3 linked regions of the Homo sapiens genome follow. The protein of the gene in region 3 interacts with the protein of the main gene of each other region in a biochemical or structural test. Each region holds a gene or a part of one and is shown on either strand. Other genes may lie near its edges. The genes, in order: WAC, SPRTN and VCPIP1.

Region 1 (3,830 bases), on a different chromosome or scaffold from region 3:
TATTTCTACTAAAAATACAAAAATTAGCCGGGCATGATGGCGTATGTTTGTAATCCCAGCTACTTGGGACATTAAGGCAGAAGGATCGCTTGAACTCAGGAGGCAGAGGTTACAGCGAGCCAGGATCACACCACTGCACTCCAGCCTGGGCAACTCTGTCTCCAGAAAAAAAAAAACCAAAAAACAAACCCTAACGATTGTACCTTAAGGTTTTTGCTTTTGGTTACTTTAAACAAGATTGTATGTTTTCAGACAGATCACAGACTATATAAAAATAACTCATTTCACAAAAAAATATTTTAATTATACTCTCACATAACCTATCTTAAATTTACAATAGACATTATTTCCTTTAATAAATCCTAATGGATAAAATCTCTAACTCTAAACTATACACGCTATGTTACAGCAAGTCTTATTTTAACTAGCAAGGTTTTTGGGAATAAAAACCTTCACAATCCCTGATTTCTCACTTTTTATATTGTATCTGCAAGTCCTTTCATACATTACTTCTGAACGAGCATTTTTCAATGAAATCCAAGATGCTAAGAAATCTAGTAATTACTGAAAAATGCTGTGATGCCAGTAAAGCCTAATCCTAAGGTAAACAAACGCACAAGTTCCACATTTAACTTGCTTTGTAAAATGCAAGTTACAAATCATAGCATATAGGTTATTATTAGTAAAGAAAATCATTAAATCTTAAAATGAAAAACTGGGAAATTTGAATTCAGTAGTTCAATGCATATAGTAAGTAACCTGCTGTAATCTTAAGTTTTTTACATGCTTAGAGCTTAGATAATCCAACTCACTTGCATTTGATTTTTGATAATGGTCTTGAATTTATATACATTAATTTTTTTCTTTTTTTTTTTTTTTTTTAAACAGACGGGTCTCACTCTATCAACCCAGGTTAGAGTGTGGTGGCACAACCACAGCTCACTGTTAACCTCAAACTCCTGGGCTCAAGCAATCATCCCACCACACCCAGCTAATCAAAAAAAAAATTTTTTTTTTTTTTAGTAGACACAGGGTCTTGCTATGTTGCCAAGGCTAGTCTCAAACTCCTGGCTTCAAAGGACCTTCCCATCTCAACCTCCCAAGCAACCAGCATTACAGAGATGAGCAGCTGTGCCTGGCTGAATTCTTTTTTTTTTTTTTTTTTTTGAGACAGGGTCTCAATCCGTCTCCCAGGCTGGAGTGCAATGGCACAATCTCAGCTCACTGCAACCTCCACCTCCTGGGTTCAAGTGATTTTCCTGCCTCAGCCTCCCTAGTAGTTGGGATTACAGGCACTCGCCACCGCAACCAGCTAACTTTTGTATTTGTAGTAGAGACAGGGTTTCACCACGTTGGCCAGGCTGGTCTCAAACTCCTGACCTCAGGTGATCTGCCTGCCTCGGCCTCCCAAAGTGCTGAGATTCCGGCGTGAGCCACTGACCCGGCCTGAATTCATTTTTGGATAAAAATCCAAAGGAGTTTATAATGCCTGCAATAAAAATCATACATATACACTTTTAACATCTTAGTGCCAAACACATCATTAGCAATAAAAAATAAACACCAGAAAACAAATTATAATGACTAAATATCTCACTATAAAATGAGGAAAAATCACCATTTTACGTTTTTTGAAGAGAGAATATCAAAGATGTACTCTCAATTCCAGAATGGAGATATACCTCATATTATTATTTCCATATAATATAAAGGAATATGGCAGCCAGGTATGTTAGAGATGGTAGAGACAGGAATGGAATCACAGTATTAGCTGGAAGACTCCAGAAGACGACAATCAGCTAGAAAGAAAATTGGAAAGTGGGGCCTAACTTAGCAAGTGATTAGATCAGAAAAACATCAAGTTTCTTGCAAATGAAGCTAAAGAAACATCAGGAAAGATGCAAATTTTTAAAAACGAAAAGCTAACAAGTACCTGGAGTTCATACAGGTAGAAAAATGAAAAAATCAAAGTGAAGAAAAAATGGGTACAGAAAAAGTAAGTGGCTAAAACACCACTAGCTCTCAAGAGTCAAAGCATTTAAGAATAGCTTCAAGGCCAGGATCACATCTTGACTCCCAGGAGTATCACACAAATGTTGGCACACAGTAGATGCCCCAGGTTTGTTGAATGAATAAGCAACAGAATGTTCTTGGGATTACTTCACCTGTAAAAGAATTGGCTGAGCAAGGTTTGCTGGAAATGATTGAAAGCATTTATAACTGAAAAACTGACTTCTTGCATTTGGGGATAAACTGGATCATAGTCACTAAAATAAGAGCCTATTTGTAAGAAGATGAGGTGCCATATCCTATTTTGTTACAATCACCAAATTTTTCAAAATAAATACAGTATAGTACAACCAGTACCTGCTCTCCAAGAGCTAACATTAGAAATGAAATCCACTATAGAAGAGTGGTTGATAGAGAGTACCATCTCAGGCTTTACATAATACTATGGAAAACTTACCCACAAAACTGATAACTCTAAAAGCTTAATTTTGCAACCCAATAACTTGTAACACTTTAATAATCAAATACACCTGCTACTACTGTTACAAAAATGTGGTTTATCTGCATAAATAGCACTAAGCTATAACTACATTCAATAGAGAACTACTTTCTTCTCATCCAAATTATTCAATCCCAGTGCAATCTTCTGACTGTATTTTCTCAAACCAGTAATTATGTAGAGGAAGCCAATGTTTCTCAGTATATGATCACACTGAATAAAGCTGATTTCTATCCTAGGTGGACAAAAGGGGCAAGATGCAAGGTATTTTTTTTAAAGTAAGCCAAGTATTGAAGAACTAGCTGCCAATAGGGGCAAAAAGTCACATGGTACTTTACTGAGTTTCCTTGGAAGCTTTTAATATTGTAAATCTGCTTAAGATATGTTATCTACTTAAGCAACATGTAGGAGAGAATATAGGTGTCTTTACTGAAATTGCTTTGTTCCTTAATGCATGCTTTTGACATGAAATGTAATTCGGGCAAATTAAGTCTGAAAATAGTTACTGAGAATTGGTTTTGTTTACTTATTCTCAGACTCCTACCACAAAGAGCTTGAGGCAAACTTATAATTGAAGGTACAGGACTGTGCAAAAGAAATCAGACTAACTTTTAAAAAGAATATTTCAATGAACCAGGTATAAAAATCACATCACCAAAACTGGAGAATACTGAAAATGTTTACAACAAAAAGCAAGAATGTATTTTCTAAGTCATAAATAATTTTTTAAATCTGGGAACTATCCTGAAAAAACATAATGAGTTTTTAAATTCATAGTTTATCATTGTAATTAGAAAACAGATTTGAACACCTTAAAAAGTAACAAACTGAAGCAACAATAAGGATCTCAAACTGAAATCTTTAAAAGGTCAAAGTTCCTTTCTTGGAAAAAAGTCCTGCATTTTTCCCATCCTTAAGAAAGCATGTTTTAAACTATATTCATAAATGCATTCCCTTATTATTAAACACTAAAGTCCGCTTTTTTTTTTTTTTTAATGGAGTCTCACTCTAGCACCCAGGCTGGAGTGCAGTGGCACCATCTCAGGCTGACTGCAACCTCCACCAACCAGGTTCAAGTGATTCTCCTACCTTAGCTTCCTGAAGAGCTGGCACTACAGGCGCCTGCCACCACCACCATGCCCAACTAACTTTTGTATTTTTAGTAGAGATGGGTTTTCACCTGCTGGCCAGGCTGGTCTTGAACTCCTGACCTCAGGTGATCTGCCCGCCTCGGCCTCCCAAGTGCTGAGATTACAGGCGTGAGCCACCGCGCCTGGCCTTAAGAGTCCACTTTTTAGATGCTCACATCAGCATCTTGTTT
Region 2 (3,830 bases), on a different chromosome or scaffold from region 3:
TACAGAAGAATGTACATAGTATTTTGTGTAAGAAAAATTTTGTATGGTGGGGAGGAGGAATAAAAATGAATAGAAATATTTGCAAAACAGAAAAATGAAAAGAAACTAACAGCTCCTACAGCAAGTAAGGAGTTCAAGATAGAGGAGGACACTGAACAAGACATCTTTGTGTATAGCTTTCTACAGCTTTTGGGTTTTGATTCAGAAATCATGAAAACTTGAAACAAACACTAAAACCTACTGCTCATTCCACACCAAAGATGCACAAGTTTCTGTGCAAAATTAACAAAAGCATTTAAGATTGCTGGGGTTTTTGCTCTAAAAAATATAAATAATTTTTTTAAGCAAAAATCAGAAAGATCTTCAAAGACATACCTTTTTCATGATCCTCCATAATTTTTTTAAAAAACAATTTCCATCAGAAGAACTAGACTGTCATTAATGAATTTTAGTCTTATAAAATTATGCTGAACAGAAAAATGAGAGAATCAAACATTTTAACTTGGTCATTCATATATCCCTCTAAAAATTATCAACTGTATCTCTTAAAAGGAACTTTATTTATTTATCTTATTATTTCTCAGAGATGGGGTCTCACTTTTTCACCCAGACTGGAGTGCAGTGGCATGATTATATTTCACTGCAGCCTCAAATTCCTGGCATCAAGGGATCCCTCTATCTCATCCTCCTGAGCAGCTGGGATTACAGGCGCATGTCACCACACCTGGCTAATTTTTTTTCAATTTTTTGTAGAGACAAGGTCTCACCATCTTACCCAGACAGGTCAACTCCTGGGCTCAAGCAATCCATCTATCTGATTACGTGCATGAGCCACTGTACCCAGCCAGAACTTTATTTTTCAAGTAAATGCCGCTCAACGAAGAAGACTCAAATTCAAGAAAGGTACTGCAAAAGTTTCTCAATGTTCTAAATTAGAGCAATGATAAAGATCTATTCTCATAAAGGAGAAACAAATTTAGGTTCCTGATTTTTGGTTCAATTTAATTAAACATTAAAAAACATCTTGAAAATGGTACTGAACTTTTTAAATATCTATCATTTTCCATATTTAGTCTTAATTCAAGGATCTATACACAACACAGTCCCAAAATACCTCTGTTTTCCATGACTGTTCTATCGGGTTAAAATGAACTACCTCTAGTCCTAAATATGCCCCCAGTTGTCTGAACTCACTTTTGTTCACATTATTCCCATGCTTTCTGCCAAGAGTAGCCTCCTGTCCTATCTCTGCTTGTCAAAAGTACAATTCGTCCTTTAATGCTCACCTCTCCATGTTTTAATCGCAGGAGTGATGAGTTGAATGGTAAAGGGGACAGAACAAGAGCCTTAGAGTCAGGGAAACTGGAACCTAAACCCACAATCACAGCATGAGACCTGGGACAGGCTCCAAGTGGCTCCTCATCCCTAAAATGGGATATCCTCATTTTGCATGGCTGTGGTAAAGACGACGTTTAGTCCAAAGTCTGACACACAATAGGTGCTCAATAGTGAGCAGCAGGAGTGGTGATGGTAGTAACAAAATGTACAGTTATAAAGCTTTTCTTGACCTCCTCAACCAGATAAAGTCTGTTCCTTTTCTGAACCCCCTTCTCTATGATTTAGGTAACTACAGTTGTGCCTCACTTGGCAGGGATATGTTCTGAAAAATCCATTGTTAGGCAATTTTGTCATTGTGCAAACATCTTAAGAGTGTACTTACACAAACCTAAATGGTATAGCCTATGTAATATATATATATATATACACACACCTAGGCTATAGAGTATATATACCTAGGCTATAGAGTATATATACCTAGGCTATAGGGTATATATACCTAGGCTATAGAGTATATATACCTAGGCTATAGAGTGTATATACCTAGGCTATAGAGTATATATACCTAGGCTATAGAGTATAGCCTGCCGCTCCTAGGCAACGAACCTGCACAGGATGTTACTGTACTGAATGCTGTAGGCAAGTGCAACATAATGGTAAGTATTTGTGCAACTAAATATAAAGAAGAAAAAAGGTACAATAAAAATATAGTCTTGGCCAGGTGTGGTGGCTCACGCCTGTAATCCCAGCACTTTGGGAGGCTGAGTCGGGCGGATCACGAGGTCAGGAGATTGAGACCATCCTGGCTAACATGATGAAACCCCGTCTCTAGTAAAAAAAATACAAAAAATTGGCCTGGCATGGTGGCGGGTGCCTGTAGTCCCAGCTATGTGGGAGGCTGACGCAGGAGAATGGCCTGAACCCGGGAGGCGGAGCTTGCAGTGAGTGGAGATGCGCCACTGTACTCCAGCCTGGGCAACAGAGCGAGACTCCATCTCAAAAAAAAAATAAATAAATATAGTCCTGGCCGGGCATGGTGGCTCATACCTGTAATCCCATTCACTTTGGGAGGCTGAGGCAGAAGGATCACCTGGGGTCAGGAGTTTGAGACCAGCCAACATGGTGAAACCCCGCCTCTACTAAAAATACAAAAATCAGCCAGGCGTGGTGGCGCACACCTTTAATCGCAGCTACTTGGGAGGCTGAGGTAGGAGGATCCCTTGAACCAGGGAGGCGGAGGCTGCAGTGAGCCGAGATCATATCATTGCACTCCAGCCTGGGCAACAAGAGCAAAACTCCATCTCAAAAAACAAAAAATAAAAATAAATAAATAAATAAAAATATGGTCTTATAATCTTATGGGACCACTGTTATATATGGGGCCTGTCATTGACGAAAATGTCATTTTGTAACTTTCTGCCAACAGGAAATGCTCACTTGATACTATTATACATTCCCCATTCTCTTCTCACCCACTACTTAAAAACATTTTTTTCTCATGTGTTTATGTAATCATTTACCCAATACATATTCATTAAGCAACTCTTCCAGTTAGGGCTCCTTCTAAGGCTGATTTGGTTAATCATGCTGTTCAACTTTTTAAAATGTGTATTATTTTTTTCCGCTTATTCATTGGGTTACTAAGAAGGTTGTGTTAACATTCTTCAAGTATGAGTCTGGGTGTCTTGGCTGACACCTGTAATCCCAGCACTTTGGGAGGCTGAGGCGGGAGGATTGCTTGGGCCTGGGAGGTTGAGGCTGTAGTGAGACAGGGTCTTGCTCTGTCACCCCAGGCTGTAGTGCTGTGGTGTGATCTCGGCTCACTGTAACCTCCACCTCCCGAGTTCATGCGATTCTTGTGCGTCAGCCTCCTGAGTAGCTGGTACTACAGGCTGTGTCACCACACGCAGCTAATTTTTGTATTTTTAGTAGAGACGGGGTTTCACCATGTTGGTCAGGCTGGTCTCAAACTCCTGGCCTCAAGTGATCCGCCTGTCTCAGCTTCCCAAAGTGCTGGGATTATGGGCGTGAGCCACCGCACCCAGCCTGATTGTATATTCTTTTTGCTTCTGCTAATTTATGCCTCATAAAATTTAAAGTTATGTTATTACTTTTGGAGAGATTATGTATTGTTGCTTAATAGATTATTTTATTATTATAAAATATCCCACTTTTCCTCTAGTAAAACTTCTTCCCTTGAAGTCTTTAGTCTGATACTAATACTGGTTGAACATCCCTAATTTGACAATCCAAAATCTGAAATGCTCCAAAATCTAAAACTTTTTGAGCACTTACAAGATGATTAAAGGTTAAGTTCTAAGGAAATGCTCACTAAAGCCATTTCAGATTTGGGACTTTTGGATTAGGGAAGCTCAACCAGTAAGTATAATGCAAATATTCCAAAGTAAAAAAAAAAAAAATCTGAAACACTTCTGGTCCCACTTTGGATAATGAGTACTCAACCTTATAGCCACAATAGTTTTCTGCTTTTA
Region 3 (3,600 bases):
CAACAAGAGTGAAACTCTGTCTCAAAAAAAAAAAAAAAAAAAGAAAGAAAAATATCCCAAGATAGGAAAAATCACTTCTCTTGTAATTAAGGTCCATTATGGAGGATTTCTCTTTCAAATATTTATTTTCAAGAAAATTGTAGCAATTAGGTGCACATCAAAACTAATACCCTTTATGGGCCTCTATTTTGCAGATGGTTCATTTCAAAGCATCAAGTTCTACATACATACATACACACACACACACACACACACACACACACACACACACAACCTAATCAGGCGGTTTCCTGGGCAGCTACAGAAGACTCAAATGATCTCATGGACTTCACTAATGTTTCTAGTTGGTGCCAAATGTTTCAGAAATTTTGAGGTAGTCCACTTACCTAAGGTGATACTAAACTTCCAGAAAGCAAGAATTTCCGTAATAAGTGAAAGAGGATGAATGTACAAAAATAATACTAGCTTTCAATTAACATATGAATATTGTTCTGTATGAAGAGGCAGTTTCCTACCCAAGTGAAAAAAGAATAAAGCTGTTGCCTCCTTAACATTAAACATCCCTTCATCACTAAGAGGAGACTCTAAGGCCTAGCAAAAGATTTGAGCCTAACATTTTGGGTTTTTTTTTTTTTTTTGAGACGGAGTCTTGCTCTGTCGCCCAGGCTGGAGTGCAGTGGCGTGATCTCGGCTCACTGCAAGCTCCGCCTCCCGGGTTCACGCCATTCTCCTGCCTCGGCCTCCCAAGTAGCTGGGACTACAGGCGCCCGCCACTACGCCCGGCTAATTTTTTTGTATTTTTAGTAGAGACGGGGTTTCACCATGTTAGCCAGGATGGTCTCGATCTCCTGACTTCGTGATGCATCCGCCTCAGCGTCCCAAAGTGCTGGGACTACAGGCGTGAGCCACCGCGCCCGGCCGGGATTTTTTGGTAAGCAGCAGCGTAAAAATCACTCTCAAGGTTTGAGATTGGGATCCAGCATAACTGGTGACTTGACCTTGGGCAAGTCACTTAATTCCTTTTAGTCTCAGTTTCCCTGATTGTAAATGAAGTCAACACCACCTGGTAAAGGTATTACAGGACTGGTGTGAGGATGAGATGATACATGTGAACATATTATTAAATATGTAAACTATAAGGCAATAGTAAGCAAATGCTAGTTACTATTCTATGTAATACAGGCCTAACCTTTCCTGCCTATGTCCTGATCTGTAAAAAGAAGACAGGTTGAGATCTGAATGTCTATCCACTCACTTATCAGCTGCGTGAACTTTAGCAAGTCATTTCCTTTCTGGGCCTGTTTCCTAAGAAGGTTATTTTTTAAGATCAAATGATATCGTGTTATGCAAATGCTGTCCAGACACATATTAAGAACTTAACACATGATGGCTCTTATTATTCTCTGGGGAGTAGGGTGGTAAAGAGCAAATGAAATTAAACCTAGTTAAGAGAATTTGTATATGCACACAAAACTCTACAGACATCCAAGGTACCGTTATTTGCACTGTAAACTGCCAAAACATGCAGGAAACGAGAAATCAAATGGCGCCTCAGTGATTCGCACTAGAGAGGGGGAGAAGGCAGAGCTTCCGAGAATCAACTGTTTTCCCCCTTATGGCCTCCAGCCTAGATTAGACCATTTATTCAACTTCCCAGCCCCCAATATCCCTGGACATTTATTTACTGTACCTTTTTCACTGAGAGCCTTTCCACTCCCCTCCCCTTCTAGTAGTCGTGAACTTCAGACCCTCGCTTCGACTCCCACTGCCATAACTGTTTTTAACCAAGCTTCCCTGAATCCTCCCCTCCGCCTAAGGAGGAAGTGCAGCTAGACGCACCGCACGGCATCCTAGGAAATGTGGTCTCTCAGACTCTTTGCCTTGGGCTGCAGAGTGGGGAAGACGACGAAGGAGAGCCCAGTAAAACTACAACTACCGGCAGGCAACGCGAGTCACCATCTTTCTTTCGCCCCTTTTCCTGTTGCCGTCCTCTTCCTCCTCTCCTCTAGCGCTGAACCGCTTGGCCTCACGGTACTTGTAGTTCCTTCTGGACTCAAGATCCTAGGGCTTGATGGCCAGCACAGAGGCTGGAAGACTCTAATTCCCAGAGGGCAGAGCGGAAGCTGCGCCTGCGCACACTCAATGAGGGCGTGTATGTCTGTGTCTGAGGGAGAGAGAGCGAGAGTGAGTGAGTGTGAGTGCGGGGTGGGGTGGTGGCCGTTACGTTCGGGGCAACGGCTACGGCAGTGGAGAAGTAAGAAGAGAAACAACGTCCGGCGCTTCCGCCTTCGCTTAGGAGGAGGAAGAGCTGGTAGGGAAAGGAAAGTGCTTCGCCCTGGGCCTGGACTGGACCGAGTCGGGTTGGTGGGGGTCTGGGCTATGAGCTTTTGAGGGTCGCCTGGGACGCGGAGCGAGACACGAGAGCCAGGAGCTATGTCTCAGCCGCCGCCGCCGCCGCCTCCGTTGCCGCCGCCACCTCCTCCCCCTGAGGCTCCACAGACTCCGTCGTCCTTGGCGTCGGCGGCTGCTTCGGGGGGGCTTTTGAAGCGGAGAGACCGGAGAATCCTTTCCGGGAGCTGCCCGGATCCGAAGTGTCAGGCGCGTCTATTTTTCCCGGCCTCCGGTTCTGTCAGCATCGAGTGTACCGAGTGCGGCCAGCGGCACGAGCAGCAACAGCTGCTGGGGGTTGAGGAGGTGACCGACCCGGACGTAGTGCTACACAACCTGCTGCGGAACGCGCTGCTCGGGGTTACGGGGGCACCCAAGAAGAACACGGAACTGGTAAAGGTGATGGGCCTTTCCAACTATCACTGCAAATTGTTGTCGCCCATATTAGCTCGCTATGGAATGGACAAACAGACAGGCCGGGCCAAGCTTCTCCGGGACATGAACCAGGGCGAACTGTTCGATTGCGCCTTACTGGGTGACCGCGCCTTCCTCATAGAACCAGAGCATGTTAACACTGTGGGCTATGGCAAGGACCGCTCCGGAAGCCTCCTGTATTTGCATGACACTCTGGAGGACATTAAGCGGGCCAATAAAAGCCAGGAATGTCTCATTCCAGTGCATGTGGACGGGGATGGACACTGCTTGGTGCATGCTGTGTCTCGGGCTCTAGTAGGCCGAGAGCTCTTCTGGCATGCCTTAAGAGAGAATCTTAAACAGCACTTTCAGCAGCACCTGGCCCGATATCAAGCTCTGTTCCATGACTTCATTGATGCTGCTGAGTGGGAGGACATTATCAATGAGTGTGACCCTCTGTTTGTACCACCTGAGGGTGTTCCCTTGGGCCTGAGGAATATCCACATATTTGGTCTTGCCAATGTGCTACATCGTCCTATTATTCTGTTAGATTCCCTCAGTGGCATGAGAAGCTCTGGTGATTATTCAGCCACCTTTCTACCTGGGCTCATCCCTGCAGAGAAGTGCACTGGGAAAGATGGTCATTTGAACAAACCAATCTGTATTGCATGGAGCAGCTCCGGTAGAAACCATTATATCCCCTTGGTAGGCATAAAAGGGGCTGCTTTGCCCAAACTGCCTATGAATTTGCTTCCTAAAGCATGGGGTGTGCCTCAGGACCTTATTAAAAAGTACATA

What was found.
Region 1: the proteins of VCPIP1 (region 3) and WAC form a complex in vitro, tested with the Homo sapiens proteins (2 studies listed by BioGRID).
Region 2: of the proteins of VCPIP1 (region 3) and SPRTN, one has a biochemical effect on the other in vitro, tested with the Homo sapiens proteins (one study listed by BioGRID).

The regions. Positions count from the first base shown.
Region 1 is NC_000010.11:28,535,919-28,539,748, reverse strand, and holds part of WAC (WW domain-containing adapter protein with coiled-coil), read right to left. Parts: intron 1-3,830.
Region 2 is NC_000001.11:231,341,260-231,345,089, reverse strand, and holds part of SPRTN (DNA-dependent metalloprotease SPRTN), read right to left. Parts: intron 1-3,830. UniProt on the Homo sapiens protein: DNA-dependent metalloendopeptidase that mediates the proteolytic cleavage of covalent DNA-protein cross-links (DPCs) during DNA synthesis, thereby playing a key role in maintaining genomic integrity.
Region 3 is NC_000008.11:66,665,792-66,669,391, reverse strand, and holds the start of VCPIP1 (deubiquitinating protein VCPIP1), read left to right. Parts: upstream 1-2,160; 5' UTR 2,161-2,433; coding exon 2,434-3,600. UniProt on the Homo sapiens protein: Deubiquitinating enzyme involved in DNA repair and reassembly of the Golgi apparatus and the endoplasmic reticulum following mitosis. Necessary for VCP-mediated reassembly of Golgi stacks after mitosis.